Regions from separate parts of the Homo sapiens genome. Here region 2 is linked to region 1. The links come from fine-mapping of genetic effects on gene expression. Tissue or cell type: lymphoblastoid cells. Region 1 holds a variant in brackets; the other region holds the start of a gene. All regions are shown on one strand. Distances are between the middles of the regions.

What was found. PIP is the estimated chance that this variant, and not a neighbour inherited with it, causes the effect.
Region 2: it holds the start of BBX, and the variant in region 1 is fine-mapped to the expression of BBX in lymphoblastoid cells (GEUVADIS, PIP 0.95).

Annotation. Positions count from the first base shown.
Region 1 is chr3:106,597,098-106,605,661 of GRCh38, reverse strand. All of the region lies in intron 2 of LOC101929485 (a long non-coding RNA gene), which reads left to right. Among named protein-coding and RNA genes, the nearest start is that of LINC00882, 640 kb to the left of the region's middle. The variant A/G (reference allele first, on the strand shown) is at 4,667.
Region 2 is chr3:107,519,571-107,527,798 of GRCh38, reverse strand. BBX (BBX high mobility group box domain containing) reads right to left here and starts at 4,837. Exons shown (of 18, transcript NM_001142568.3): 1 at 4,692-4,837; 2 at 1,401-1,472. RefSeq lists enhancers at 2,248-2,297, 5,171-5,220 and silencers at 2,498-2,707, 4,161-4,230, 4,341-4,430, 4,461-4,770.

The DNA of each region.
Region 1 (8,564 bases):
CTTCTACTTATGAAGAATTGAATAACAGAAGACTTTATAAATTATTTTATCTACATCATTTAAAAAAGGTTGTCCATCTTCATACTTTCTCTAACAAAAACATATATATTTTGAAAGTATTCAATTAAATAAGTTATTTGCTTATTATGATGTGATAGACATTGTGATTTATTGTTGTATGGTAAGCACTCTTATAAAGGTACTTATGAAGGTACAACTGAACTTTGTTAGAAATTGGTGAATTGTTTAACAGTGGTAAATTATGCATTGCAATTGTTTGAAAGTGACAAATTAACCAAAGAGGTTAATAGTTTTCAAACAACTATTATAACATATAAAACGTTTCCAATAAGTACATTATTAAGGCTTAAAGTGAAAGGGACTATAATTTATAGAGGCATAGTGAGCCTTAAGCTAATCTTTAAAAAAGGTATATCTTCTCTCTTCTACCATGCAATACTATTTTTTTTTAAAGATAGAGACAGAGGAGTGATGTCAGCAAGATAACCAACTATGTTTGACTGGAGTGACTGGGGAAATATACTAAAGAGTGCCAGGGGAGTGGCAAAATTCCTGCGGAGCACAAAATCTCAGAATAAAACAATAGAAGGGGAGCAAGGTATCCTGCCTCTGACAAACTGTCTCTCCAACGAAATCAGTTTGGAGTCAGAGAGCCTTCTTACAAAGAAGGAATAAGCTGGAGATCCCCAATGGCTCTCACTGCTGCCATAAATGCCAGAAATTCTTGCTACAGGAGAGGCCCCAAATCCTAGTAGATTGTGAATCCAGCTTAGAGAGTAGCTGGGAGTACAGGTAGCTGCGTCATATCAGAGTAGAAGCCCACCTTGAACATCCCCATCCTCACAACCTAAGCTGCTATGGCATAGGACCATCTTGAAACCAAACCCACTGCTAGGATGTGCCCTGATCTGGGGACTAGTGGCAACTGACTCTCCATGTCCCTGAGACCCTGCTGTTATTCCACCATGTTCATGCAGGTGCCTGTAGCACCATGACCCCAGTTGCATGGAACTTAGGCAAGATGAAACAACTGAGACCAAAGTGTCGAAACCCATGCAGCACCCCACCCTTCCAGAGAACTGGCAGATCTGCACAGCAGGGAAGCTATTGAACAGCAGCTGGCCCACTGAACACACATGCACCAATGCTTGGCTAAACAGCTTGCACAGTGGCAGTCCTACCTCCCTGAGAAAACTGCCACACAGCCACCCAGCCTCACCTGACCCATGCACACCTATGCCCAGCCTGACAGCTGATTTGGCAGTGGCTCACCTTCTTGAGCATATAACTGTAGAGTTTCCTGGCTCCATTTTACCCATACCTACTCATGCCTGGCATGATAACTGTTCTAATGGCAGCCCAACCTCCCCAGGGAGACTACCACAGAACCATATGGCCCAGCCACACCTGGACTCTCATGCTCAGCTTGAAGTTCTGTCTGGAAGCAGTTCTGTCTTTCCAGAGAGACTGCTACAAAGCCTCCCAGGCAACTGTGTCCATGTGTGCAGCAATTCCTACCTCCCCAGAGAGCCCACTGGGCAGCCTATTGGCCCTTTGCCGCATCACATACCTAACCCACAACCAACCAGCACCCACATCCCCAGCAAACACACACCATTAGCTTCAAAAACTTCTGCATTTGAGGCAACTAAACGAACTGTAGAAATTAATGATGAAGATTACAGATGAAGAAACTGCACAAGGACCATGCTACTGAGTTTACTCAGAACCAAAGCCAATGCATCAAACCCAACTAATACCCTAAAACCCATCTATAGGAAAAAGTCTCTTCCTAAGAAAGGTACTCTGGATAACTTGAAAAAGTGACTGTTCCACTAAATGCACAGATATCAATGTTGGAACACAAGAAAGCAAGGAACGCAAAAAGCAAGGAAAGATGACAGCCCCAAAGAAACAATAAGTTTTCAGACACTGACCCCAAAGAAAAGAACATTTACAAAATGCCTGAAAAGAAATTCAAAATTATGATCTTAAGGAAACTCAGTGAGATGCAAGAGAACACAGACAAGCAAATAAAAAAAAATCAGGAAAACTATCCATAATCTGAATAAGAAATTCAATAAAGAAAGATATCATAAAAAAGAAACAAAAAGGATTATTAGAGCTGAAAAATTTAAACAATAAGATAAAAAATACAATTAAGAGCATTGACAACTGAGTAGATTAAGTAGAAATAAAGTTTTCTTAACTTGAACACAGGTCTTTTGAAATAATGTAGTCAGAGAAAAAAATCATCAAAAATAAAAAAAGAATAAAGAAAGCCTAAAAACATATGGAAAACCATTTAGAGAACAAATATTTGCATTATAGGAGTTTGAGAATAAGAAAAGAAGGGAAGTGGCATAGGAAAGTTATATAATGATATAATAACTGAAAACTTTCCAAGAATTAGGAGAGATACAACATCAAATTGAGGAAGCTCAAAAGTTCCAAAATAGATTTAACCCTAAAAGGTTCTCTTTGAGGCCCATTATGATTAAATTATAAAAAGTCAAAGACAAAGAGAATTATAAAAGCTGAAAGAGAAAATCCTCAGGTCACATACAAGAGAATCTTCATTAGACTATCAGCATATTTCTCAGAAGAAGCCTTGCAGGTTAGGAGAGAAGGAAATTGTATATTAAAAGTGCTCAGAGTAAAAAGAAACAAAAACAAAACAAAACAAAAACCCTGATAGTCAAGAATACTATATCCAGCAAAGCTATTCTTCAAAAAAAAAGGAGAAATAAGATTTTTACAGATAAGTGAAACCTGAAAGAATTCATCATTTCTGGAGCAGCCCTACAAGAAATGCTTAAGACAGTGCTCTAACTGAAAATGAAAGGACAATAATTACTACTATAAAAATATGTGAAAGTACAAAACTCACCAGTATAGGTAAATTCATAAATCAAACTCAGAATACCCCAGTGATGCACTGGTGTACTAATGCACTGGTAAATCTTTCAATACTCTAGTATAAAAGTTTAAAGTCAATACGATCAAAAACAATAACAGTTACAATGGGTAACTGTTGGAAATACAATAGATAAAGAAGTAAATTAAGGCAACAAAAATATAAATTGTGAGAGGGGAAGGAAAATGTCTACAGTATTTTTACACAACCAAAGTTAAGTTGCTATCAACTTAAAATAGTCTATTATAACTACAAGACTCGTTATATTAGCCCCATGGTAGCCACAACAAAATAAACTTACAGCAGATATATAAATGATACATAGAAATAAAACAATGAAAACCATAGAAAACTACCAAACCACAGAGGTAAACAACAAGAGAGGAAGAAAGAAACAAAAGATCTATAAAACAACCAGAAAGCTATTAACAAAATGGAAAGAATAAATTCTTACCTATCAATAATAATCTTGAATGAAAATAGATTAAATCCTCCATTTAAAAGATAGAGGCTGGATGAAAATAAAAATACTTAACTATATGTTGCTAATGAGAGACTCACCTCATTGTTAAAGACAAACATAAACTTAAAGTGAAGGAATGGAAAAAGATATTTCATGTAAGTTGAAATAAAAAGCAAGCAGAAGTAGCAATACTTATATCAGATACAATAGACTCTAAGTTAAAAACTGCAAAAAGAGACAAAGAAGGTCATTATATAATGATAAAGGGATTGATTCAGCAAGAGAATATAATAATTGTAAATACGTCTGCAGCAAATACTGGAGCACCCAGTTATACAAAGCAAATATTATTGGAATTAAAGGGAAAAATGGACTGCAATACAATAAAAGTGGAGGTCTTCACTACCACACTTTCAGCAATAGTTACATCATCTAGGCAGAAAAACAACAAAGAAGCATTGAATTTAAACTGCACCATAGACCAAATGGACCTAACAGATATTTACAGAACATTCCATCCAACAGCTGTGAAATACACATTCTTCTGAACTGCACACAGAACTTACTCAAGAGTAGATCCCATGTTATGCCACAAAAGAAGTCTTATAAAATTTATGAAGATAGGCCGGGCACGGTGGCTCACGCCTGTAATCCCAGCACTTTGGGAGGCCAAGGCAGGCAGATCACAAGGTCAGGAGATTCAGACCATCCTGGCTAACGCAGTGAAACCCCGCCTCTACTAAAAATACAAAAAAATTAGCCAGGCGTGGTGGTGGGCACCTGTAGTCCCAGCTACTAGGGAGGCTGAGGCAGGAGAATGGCATGAACCCGGGAGGAGGAGCTTGCAGTGAGCCGAGACTGTGCCATTGCACTCCAGCCTGGGTGACAGAGCAAGACTCCATCTCAAAAAAAAAAAAAAAAAATGAAGATAGAGGTTATATCAAGCATCTTTTCTGATCACAATAGTATAAAACTAGAAATCAACAACAGTATAACATGCAAAGTGTAAAAATACATAGAAATAAACAATATACTTCTAAAGAACCAATAGATCAATGAAAAAAAAGTTTTAATTTTTGTTTCTGAGTGTACATGTGCAGGTTTGTTACATGTGTAAATTGCATATTGCTGAGGTTTTTTGGTGTACGAATGATGCTGTCACCAAGGTAGTGAACACAGTAACTGATAAGTACCCTTCCAACCCACACTCTGCATTCCTACCATCCTTCCTAAAGCACTCCCCAATGTCTATTGTTTCTTTTTGG[A/G]TGTCCATGTATATTCAGTGGTTAGCTCCTACTTATAGGTGAGAGCATGTGGTATTTGGTTTTCTATTCCCGTGTTACTTCACTTAGAATAAGTGTCTCCACCTACATCCTTGTTGCTGCAAAGGACATGAATTTATCCTTTTTCCATTATTGTGTAGTTTTCCATGTTGTATGTATCCACATATTCTTTATCCAGTTCATATAGACAAGCATGGTGGTTTATTCCATGTATTTGCTATTGTGAATATTTCTGTAGTGAACATAAAAGTACATATGTCTTTTTAGTAGAAATTTTTATTTTCCTTTGAGTATATACCCAATAGTGGGAGAGCTGGGTCAAATGGTAGCTCTGAACTTATCTGAGTTCTTTGCTAAATCTCCACACTGTTTTCCACAGTGGCTAACTAATTTAACATTCCCACCAGCAGTGTATAAGTGTTCCCTTTTCTCTGCAACCTTGCCAGCATCTGTCGTTTTTCGACTTTTTAATAATTGCCATTCTGACTGGTGTGAGATGGTTTCTTATTGTGGTTTTGCTTTGCATTTCTCTAATGATTAGTAATAATGAGCATATTGCTTGTTGACTGCACGTATGTCTTCTTTTGCAAAGTCTCTGTTAATGTCCTTTGTCTATTTTTTTTAAATGGGGCTACTTGTTTTTTGCTTATTGAAAAGTTCCATATAGATTCTGAGTATTAGACCTTGTTGGATGCATAGTTTGCAAATACTTTCTCGCATTCTGTAGGTTGTGTGTTTTCTCTATTGATAGTTTCTTTTGCTTTGAAGAAGCTCCTTGGCTTAATTAGGTCCCACTTGTTGATTTTTGTTGTTGTTGCAATTGCTTTTGAGAACTTAGTAATAAATTCTTTGCCACCATGTCTAGAATGGTATTTCCTAGATTTTCATCTAGGGTTTTTATCATTTGGGGTCTTACATTTAATCTTTAATACACCTAGATTTAATTTTTGTCTGTGTTTAAAGTAAGGAGTCCAGTTTCAATCTTCTACATATGGCTAGCCAGTTATTCCAGCACCATATATTGAATAGGAAGTCCTTCCTCTATTATTTATAATTGTTGACTTTATCAAAGATCAGGTGATTGTAGATATGTGGCTTTATTTCTGTGTTCCCTATTAAGTTTCATTGGTCTATGTGTCTGTTTCGATACCAGTAGCATTCTGTTTTGATTACTGTAGACTTGTAATATAGTTTGAAGTTAGATAAAAGCTAATTCAACACAATCAAGTAGGCTTTATTTCTCAGATGCAAGGTTGCTTTAATATATGCAAATTATTAAATGTAATTTACCACATAAACAGAATTAACAACAATACCCATGTAATCATCTCAACAGATTCAGAAAAGGCCTTTGATAAAATTCAACATTCCCTCATGTTAGAAATTCTCAACAAATTTGGCATCAAAGGAACATACCTCAAAATAATAAGAGCCATTTAAAACAAACCCACAGCCAACATCATACTGAATGGGCAAAATTTGGAAGCATTCCCTTTGAAAAGTAGAACAAGGCAAGGATGCTCACTCTCACCACTCCTATTCAACATAGTACTGAAAGCCCTAGCCGGAACAATCAGGCAAGAGAAAAAAATAAAATACATTCGAACAGAAAGCAAGGAAGTCAAACTATCTCTCTTTATAGACAATATGATTCTATAACTAGAAAACCCCATAGACTCTGCCAGAAGGCTTCTAGAACTGATAAACAACTTCAGTAAATTTTCAGGATACAAAATCAATGTACCCACATCAGTAGCATTTCTATACACAAATAATGTTCAAACTTAGAGCCAAATCAAGAATGCAATCCCACTTTCAATAGCCACAAAAAGAATAAAATACCTAGACATACAGCATACAATGAGATGAAAGACTCTACAACAAGAATTACAAAACACTACTGAAATAAATCAGAGATGACACAAATAAATGGAAAAACATCTCATGCTCATGAATAGGAAAAATCAATATTGTTAAAATGGCCATAGTGCCCAAAGCAATTTACACATTCAATGCTATTCCTATAAAACCACCAACATCATTTTTCACAGAATTAAAAAAAAAAAAGTCTAAAATTCACATGGAATCAAAAAGAAGCCTGAACTGCCAAAGCAATTCTAAGCAAAAAGAACAAAGCCAGAGGCATCACGATAAGGAAATTGAAAGGAAAATTTAAAAATTTCTTGAGACAAATAAGAATGGAAAAACATCATATCAAGACAGAGCAAGAGCATTTCTAAGAGCAAAATTTATAGCAATAAATGCCAACATCAATAAAAAAGAAAGATTTGTAATAAACAACCTAACATTGTACTCCAGGAAACTGGAAAAACAAAAACAAACTGAAACCAAAGTTGGTAGAAAGAAGGAAATAATAAAAATTAGAGCAAAAATAATTGAAATAGAGACTGAAACAATTCAAAAGACTAATAAAATGAAGAGTTTGTTTTTTGGAAAAAAAAATTGACAAAGTTTTAGGTAGAATAGTAAAAAACACTCTAAAACCAGAGATTAAAAAAGACACATTATGGACTGGTGCAGTGGCTCACACCTGTAATCCCAGCACTTTGGGAGGCCGAGGTGGGTGGATCACCTGAGGTCAGGAGTTGAGACCAGCCTGCCCAATATGGCAAAACCCCGTCTCTACTAAAAATACAAAAAATTAGCCAGGCGTGGTAGTGGGTGCCTGTAATTCCAGCTACTCGGGAGGCTGAGGCAGGAGAATCACTGGAACCCAGGAGGCGGAGGTTGCAGTGAGCTGAGATTTCACCACTGCACTCCAGCCTGGGCAACAAGAGTAAAATACAACTGATAAACACAGAGATATAAAGGCTTATAAGAGACTATTTTGAATAATGATATTGCAAACAAATTTGATAACCTAGAAGAAGTAGATAAATTCCTGAACACATAAACTACCAAGATTAAATAATGAGGAAATAGAAAATCTGAAAAGACTAAAAATGAGTGAGAATATGGAGTCAGTAATAAAAAGCCTTTCATTGAAGAAAAGTTGAGGATCTGAGAAGTACACTTCTGAATTCTATAGAACATTTAAGAAAGAATTAATATTGATTCTCCTCAAAGTATTTCAGAAAATTGAAGAGAAATATATTATTCCAAACTCATTTTATGAGGCCAGTATTATCCTGAGTCCAAAATCTGACAAAGACATGACAAAAAAGACTACTACAGGCTAAGATCTCTGCTAAATATAGATGCAAAAATTCTAAACAAGATATTGGCAAGCCAAATTCAATAGCCCATTAAAAAGATTATTCACTGTGATCAAGTGTGACTTATTCCAGGATGCAAGAATGATCTAACACATGAAAATCAATAAATGTGATACACCACATGAACAGAAAGAAAGACAAAAACAATATAATAATTTTGAGACACTGAAAATGCATTCAGCAACATCCAACATCCCTCTATAATAGAATCTCTTAACAAGTGGGCATAGAAAGTATGTTGCTCAAGACAATAAAAGCCGTATATGTCAAACTCAATAGTTAACCTCACACTGAGTGGATAAAAGCTGAATGCTTTCTCTCTAAGATGAAGAATAAGACAAGAATTCTCACTTTCAGCACTTCTGTTCAAAATAAGAATGGAAGTTCTAGCTAGAGCAATCAGGCAAGATAAAAGAAATAAAAGGCATACACACTGAAGGGGAGTACTTAAATTTGTTCCTGTTTTCAAAAACCTGATCCTAAAATTCATATGGAGCCACAAAAGATACCAAATAGAAAACAAACCTAAGCAAAAAGAACAAAGATGGAGGCATCATGCTTCCTGACTTGAAAATATACTATAAAGCTATAATAATGAAAACAGCATGGTACTGGCATAAAAACAGACACATAGACCATTAGAA
Region 2 (8,228 bases), 920 kb before region 1:
CCATGTATTTTAGTGTGCACTAAATTCAACTTATAGAACCTTCTCATTTTGACACTCCGATTGGCCTGCTATGTATGTGATGTATTCTGAGCTCTTAGTGAACAAACCACCTAATTATCAGCAGTAATGCAATATTTATATTCCATAGAAAATGTTCGATGCAAAACATATACAGATTATCTAAAGTTCTCTAGATTTTCTAAATGTTCAATGCAAAACTTACATAGATTATCTAAAGTCTTCAATAACATGAAAGTATATTTTGTTACCAAATGGACACTACCAGAAAGGTCTAGTCCTCTAACTCAATACTAAGACAACAGTTTTATATTCTTAATACAAAGACAATAATTTTGTTAATGTACACATTATGTCAGCAATCCAGGAAACACCACAGATGAGGTCTCTAAATTTTCTTTCACAGAAAAGTAAGTTCAAGTTCATTTTCATTCACAAAATACAATCTCTAAATTCACTATGGTAATATTACAAAGCACTACAGCTGATTTACACAATTTAGTACTAGTTTCCAAACATCAACAACTCAAGAGTACCTGGGGTGTTCCTTTACAATGGAGGGGCAAACTTACAAGGTGGTTTTCTGCAGATTAGGCTCACTGTGCTGCTTTCAAATGCTCTGTAAACCCTCAGTTCTTACCCACACTGTTACCTCTCACAAATTTTCCACACACTTACTGTCCCACACATATTTTGCAGATTTTTCCACTTGGGAGTCATATATCTGAAAAAGGCACTTAACAACAGATCTCAAAGTCTTTGTTTATTAAATTTACAGGCTACCGAATTGTTCCTAATTTCTCCAAACATGTAAGTTTTAAAAGAAATTATGATCAATTTTGAATCAAATTAGTGCACTAAACGCTAGATTTACCACACTGCCAATCCCACCTTTCCCCACCCCAAAAGTAACTGTTACAAACACCACAGGTTACTCAAGAAAGAGAACTTGAGAGAGAGTAAGCAAATGTCAGTCACTATAATTAGAGGACTTCTGCACAATGCTTCCTTGGGTTTTTAATAATTCTCTCCACTCATACACTGCACTCTTCCTATAGTATTGTCTAGCATTAAATTTACTAGACCTTCAATGCCATGTAAAATTTCATTATAAATTAAAATGTCTATTTGAGAATAAGTTTTGAAACGACAATTACTTGTAGATAAACACAAAATGAATATTTACTATCTTAATAATAACCCACAGCTGAATTCTAAACACTAAGAATCATAAACTGACTTATGCTGTGGGAAACTCAGTGAGACAAGGTTTCTGGGGTGCTGTAACCCCAATAAAGCATCTTCCTCTGTGAACAATAAAGACCCTTATGTCATTACTAATTGTCATCCTGCTTCCCTGTACGAACAGTTTGCATACTTACCCAGGAAGGCAAATGGAAAGTACACAGGGAGGAAGATGAACTGCGGCAAAGCCTTTGTCATATGATAGTGACCTATAAAGTATCAAATAAAGGTACATCATCAGTATAGTAGGGCTTTACAATAGTACAGTCCCAAGTCCTGTAACATCTATGAAGAGAAGGTACCAAAACCCAGGAGTCCAGCTCCCACTAACCCCTCCCCTTTCTCTACCACCCCCCGACACTGGAGAACTGTGGGAACAGAAGGCAAAGAAGCTCCCCGTATTGAAAGGGCAGAGGCTGGGGGGCAACCCAACTGGCATTCTAGGGTATCTCCCGTACCCTCGCTTCCTACTCCCCACATGTACAAAGCAGAAAGTTGATCCATTCTGCAAACGCAAAAACCACACCGCGATCATTCATCAACTTGCACAAGTGATCACCGCCCCCAGGACAAACACACCAGTAACCAAATCATAGGGATCGATAGGCAGCCCGAGCCTCGCCTTGCCCAGGAGACGGCGGGAGGTGCCACCGCGGCGGCAGCGGGTCCAGGTATCGAAGCCCTCAGCCTTTCAGACCTGGGCGGCCACTGCCGTCTCCCAAACACCCAGCCCGGGTCACAATCCCCAGATTGGAGATAGGAACCGACCAGGGAAAACACATTCGCCAAAGCCCACAGCGGCAAGTGCAGGGCCACCAGGTCTGCGAGGTCGGGGTGGGGGGAGCTAGGAAACAAGGAGGGAGGAAGAGAGCGAGGGATCCCACCCCGGCTTTGTTGCTGGTCACCATCAAGTTTGCATCTTAGTACAAAATGTCGATCTTAAAGGCTGACAAGACAGAGGCAGAGGCAGTGGGAGAAAGAGAAAGGGAATAGAGTCCATCTTGCTTTGGGAAAGAGGGGGGAAGAAAAAATGAAGTGCAAATACCACACTCCGGGCGTAAAAGTCTGCTAAACACCTTTCCATAACGGAGGAGCAACGAGTGGGGTGTCCCCGTGCCCGTGCCTGCTCGAACTGGCGGCGGTCTGGGCAGAAAACGCCTCCCTCTCCTCCTCTTCCTCCTTCTTCCCCTCCTCCTTCTCCCTCTCCTCCTCCTCCTCCCGCGGGCCCCGGCGAAGATCCCGCCGCCACTGCCTCTGCCTCCGCTGCCCCCCAGGGAGGCACCGCCGGCGCCCGGCCCGGCGCTGCCATTCCGGGCTTGGACCGCGCGGCGCAGAGCGCGTGGGGCCGGACCCGGGGTGGCCGCGCGGGGACGTCGGCGCCGGGGACCCCCGGCGCCCCTGGGCCGCTGGCTGCCTACAAAAGTCGCGCGAGCAGAGGTGGCGGCGGCGCGCAGGGGCGGGGGGCCGCGTGGGGGCCCCCACGCCGCCAGTGGGCAACCCCAGGAGATGGCGAAGAACGCCCCTCCCCGCGCGGGGAAAGTACCCCAGTCCCAGTCAGCCACCCCGGGAACGGCAGCCCGGCGTCCGCGGCCGGGAGAAGAGAACTGGACGTGTCATTAGCAGGACAGGCAATGGTTTCAAAGCCCCAGGCCAATGACCATTAGCAGAGGCAGAGCTCGCTCCGTCCCCATCCCCCACAACCTCCACCCACCTTCCCCTTCGCCCCCCCCCCCACCTCCACCCCACCTCGCGAAACTTTTCAACAAGATCCACCTGGACTAATTTGTCCACAGACAGTTAAAATATTGACTAGACCCTACACACTGGGAAGGAAGGGGAATGCACGCTTTATTTTCCTTCCTACAGAAAGGAAAGCAAAAAATAGCTTCTCTCTCTGTCTCTCCCTCTCCCCCCCCCCCCCTCTGTCGTACATGTTGTGTCTTAGCTTTTTGCATCGTTTCGTTTTACCTTCCTCATTTAGCAGAAATGATCGCGGCTATTTCACACATAAACGTGTTCCAGATTCTGGGATTCAGGGTCCTTGTAAATTACAGGACTCGGGTTCGGTCTCAGTTATGTTAAGTTTCATACAATACCAAAAAATAAATAAAATATGATAATAAATTTCAGAGGGTGAGTGAGCGAGACGAGGTGGAGGAGGAAAAGAAACCTCGAGTCTGATTTCTGTAATTTACTAGCGACCCGGATCGCAGCAAATAACAGTGTAACACGAGTGTGGCTTAAGAGGGCTAGGGAGCTCTTTCTAGAGGCATCGACCCCATCCCCGGATAAAGGATCTGCAAGTTTTCTGTCATCGCGACCAGGCAAAGCCGTAACTTACCTTCAGAAATAAGACTTTAAACGGCCAAGGCCTTCCTCCTCCCCTCCACCACCACCCTCAGCCTCGCTCTCTCCACCTTAAACTTATTGACACAACATAATCCCACATTCAAGCAAAATCCTGACACAGCCTCCCTCCTCCTCTTCCCCCTCCTCTCTTCCCTCCCGTTCTCTCTCTCCCTCTCTCTCTGTCTCCCTCTCTCCCCCCCCTTCCCTCCCTCTTCTCTCTCCCCTTCTCCCTCGCCCTCTTCCCCCTCTCCCCCTATTCTTCCTCCAGGCTACTCTGGCACTAAAACAGCACTTTCTCTACTCGCCGCGCATTTGGGTAGGGGTGGGGGGTGAGAGGGCACTGATCTGCGGGGCCGGAACACCCAAATCCCAACTCTCCAGATGAACGAGCAACTGGGCTGCTGTTCCCGGTCACCAACGCAGACGAAACGTTCAATAAATCCACCGAAGGCTGGCTCCTCGTACCTTCCTCCACTGCCCCTGCTCCCCAGGCCCCACCTCCCCGGCAGCCGAGACCAGGCAGGGCTCCACGTACTTTCGCCGAGATGAAGTTTGGGGCTCCCCGGGCGGCCACGAGCCGCCCGCCGGCGTGAGGGCTCTGTTGTTGTTTTCCTGGGGCCGCTCCAGCCCGCGCCCCGGCGCCCGTGCCCCTCTCAGGCGGCGCTGCCTGTGTGCCGAGAGGTGCTGGTTGCAAACGCAGCCTGGCACCGGCTGGCCTACTACTCCCCAGCCCGGCCCCCAGCCTCCCGCTCGCAGGGCACTGCCTCAGCGCCCCCCGCCCCCCGGCCCCAGCCGGCGCGGCCGCCGCGACCCTCGCCCCCGACCTCTCCCGACCCAAAGTTTTGGCGGAGGGGGAAAGTGCCCAGGGAGCGGGCCGGCTGGCGGCGGCTCCGGACGCGCGGGGTTCCCTCCGTCTTCCTCAAGTCCACCCTACCGGCTGCCGCCGCCGCCGCCGCCGCCGCCGCCGCTGCTCCTGCCGCGGAGTCCTTGGGGCTGCAGCCCGGCGGCTCGCAAGTGAGTAGGAAAACAGAAAGTGAGGGGAGTGCGCCCAGGGAGGGCTGGGGATGGGGGGCGCCTACCTCGCGGGCTCGCCGGGCGTGAGGGCGTGTGTGTAGCTAGCCCTCAGCGGCCAGTCAGGGTTTCTCTATGGGAAAGTGGAGAGAAGCTCGCGGAGCCGCTCTGCCTCCGCTTCACTGTACACTGCTCCACATACAGTACATGCAACCCGGAGAGACTGAAAACACTCATTTTATATAAGGCAGCCTGCCATTGGCCCGCGCAGTGACGGACAGGCCGCGCAGCCAAACAAGAGGCCCGTTACACCCAAACACACGCACACATACACACATTTTACAGAGACACACAAAGATCATCACATTTTCTATTTTCTAATGTTCGGGACCTGTAGACAGTAGGAGAGGACAGGTAAAGAGGCCCAGCAGAGTGGGGTAAAGGGGAAAACCCCTGTCTGCACCAAGTTGCAAGGCTTGAAACTGGTGTCCTTTTGACTTGGGAGGGTTATGGTAATAAACTACAACTCCACTGGATATGGAAGTGAGGGGGGTTTTTCATCGCTGCCTTTTGGTGCCCCATGGAAGAGGCCTGCATTGTGTTACGATTTTACAGCCTGACCCGGCTAACAAGTGGCCAAGAAAGGCTTTTATCACCTTGGATTTCTTTTGTCAATGGGTTAGCTATCACATAGGCCAAAATAGTGCAAGATAAGTTTATCAGGACTCTAATGCATTGAGGTTGTTAGTGCCTCATTCGTAGGTAGATTCAAAAAAATCAATATAACAACACACAAAGATAAACATTTTGCTGAAATAGCCAAACAACTTTTAACTGGTCAGTGGACTGCCATCACCTGTGTGGACATGCAAACTGTGCTGTTAGGTAAAATAAGTCATGGAAGATTGGCTATTGACCCTTAGCCTTCAAAACAGACCTTTGATTCAATATATACATGATTTATATTTTGCATATTATATATAAAAATATATGACTCTTTACATATTTCACATCTCATGTGAACATCATATGTTGCATGACTTTTGGAGATGATGAACCTCAGGACTGGTCTTTCTGATTGTTTTTCAACAATGCAACTTCAGAAGATTATATGAGACAGTTCAATACACATAAGTCAACAGGTTGGTGGAAAGAAGTCAAAGCTGGAAATTAGAAGGAATAAATTGTAGATTAAACTCTTTAACCAGCTGAGCAATCTTGAGCAAGTTACTTAACCTCTCCAATGCTCAGACTTGGTTTTGATTTTTAAGATTAAAATAAGAAGCTTTTCCAGATTCCCTCAATTAAATGTTTATTCAGCATCTACTATGTGTCAGGCATTATCTTAGGCCTAGATGTTTTCTTAGGGTTCCTTCCGTTTTAAGAGTTGGTGAATTATTCTCAAATACAAACATTTTGGAGATTACATAAACACTACGATTTTATGGCCTAGGTAAGTAGCTTTAAAACTTAAAGAAAACCCAACTAGGGCAACTTATTTCAGTTCCCCTTTTATTTCCTTGATGCTGTCTTAAGGTTTTTCTCTCGCATCCATAAAGTTGTTAAAAGAGTGTATGTGTGCATGTGAGCACTCCTGTGTAAGAGGGAGAAAGAGAAACAAAATCAGAAAAGTTTAAAAAGTTCAGAAAACAAAGTGGTATTTAGAAATGTGATGTTTATTTTTTTAGAAAAATCATTTTTAAAAGGAAAAGTATATAAAAAATCACAGCATTTTATTTTATTTTATTTTTGAGATGGAGTCTAACCCTGTAGCCCAGGCTGGAGTTCAATGGCGTGATCTCAGCTCACTGCAACCTCCGCCTCCCGGGTTCAAGAGATTCTCCCACCTCAGCCTCCCGAGTAAGCTGGGACTACAGGCACCTGCCATCATGCCTGGCTAATTTTTGTATTTTTGTAGAGACAGAGTTTCACCATGTTAGTCAGGCTGGTCTCGAACTCCTGACCTCAGGTGGTCCACCTGCCTCGGCCTCCCAAAGTGTTGAGATTACAGGCATGAGCCACAGCGCCCAGCCAATCACAGCATTTTAAACAGATAATATCAAAGTTTGTATTAGGGGTGGGCGCGGTGGCTCACATCTGTAATCCCAGCACTTTGTGAGATGGAGGCGGGTGGATGACCTGAGGTCAGGAGTTCGAGACCAGCCTGTCCAACACGGTGAAACCCCCGTCTCTACTAAAAATACAAAAATTAGCTGAACGTAGTGGTGGCACCTGTAATCCCAGCTATTCGGGAAGCTGAGGCAGGAGAATCACTAGAACCCAGGAGGTGGAGGTTGCAGTGAGTACAGACTGCACCATTGCACTCCTGCCTGGGGGACAGGGCGAGACTCCGTCTCAAAAAAAAAAAAAAAGTCTATTAATGGCAGTTTCATTTAGTTGACACAAGGAACAAAATGTTCTTTATCCACACTACACTGCTCTGAGGTCAGTGCTAAGTATTATCACCTCTAGTTTACCCATAGGAGAAATGAGTCAGGGACAAGTTATATAGCCTGCTCCATATTGCACAGAATGATAATGAAGAAGGAACTTAAACCGAGGACTTTTAATACCCAGCACAGGTTTTGAGTAATTTGACAACCCTTCCCTCCAAATCATGAACTTCAGAGGCAAGAGGGAATTGGAGGGAAAACCAAAAAAACTTTCTTAGAATTTCACTGTGCTCCTTTTTGAAAAGGAAAAAAAGTCGACAGGAGTTGCTACATTTAATTGCAGAGTGAAGTGTTGTGCATTATTTGCTAGTAGAACTATGTTGTGAAAAATAGAAAAGCCTATCCTACTCCCCACTCTTATCCCCAACCTCCAACCATAGGAAAACATTCTTCATATTTTTATGGTCACAAGATATTTTTGTTGAATTACACTTAGCTTAGCAGAATTATTTAGAGGTACGGTCTTCAAACTTTTAGATCACACATTGCTATCAGTAAAATGTTTGAGCATGTAGTCTCAATATGTATATTCATGTACACATTAAAAATTCACCACTGGACCAGGCATCGTGGCTCACACCTGTAATCCCAGTGCTTTGGAAGGCCAAGGCAGGAGGACTGCTTGAGGCCAGGAGTTCAAGACCAACAGTTTGAGACCAGCCTGATCAAGATAGAGAGACACTGTCTCTACCAAAAAAGAAAAAAAAAATGCACCATTGCATAGATTATTATTTATTATTATAAATCATATATTTACAAAAACAAAATTTAAAAGCATGAGATAAAAAATAAATAAGAGTTTAATTTCTTCTATAGTCCATAGAAGTGTGGATTCCTATGATAGAGTCTTAGCACATGCCCCAGGACTTTGCATTCCAGTTTGGACACCTCTGAGAGTGCAAGGTGCTAACTGACCAAGACTGATGCAGAAGAACATAAAGTGTATTGCAGTGACTTCCTATGAGTCATTACTGCTACTAGAAAATTGTTAGGTCCACAGGCCTTCGGATTGAGAGAATGACACCTTTTTAAACACATATTATATATTGGTACCGTATTTCCATTGGGCGTCATGTTCCAGCATAAGCCATTTTTCAATATTCTTTGGCAGAATATTTATTGAGAGGGTTCCATGTGCTCTTGTGCATGTCA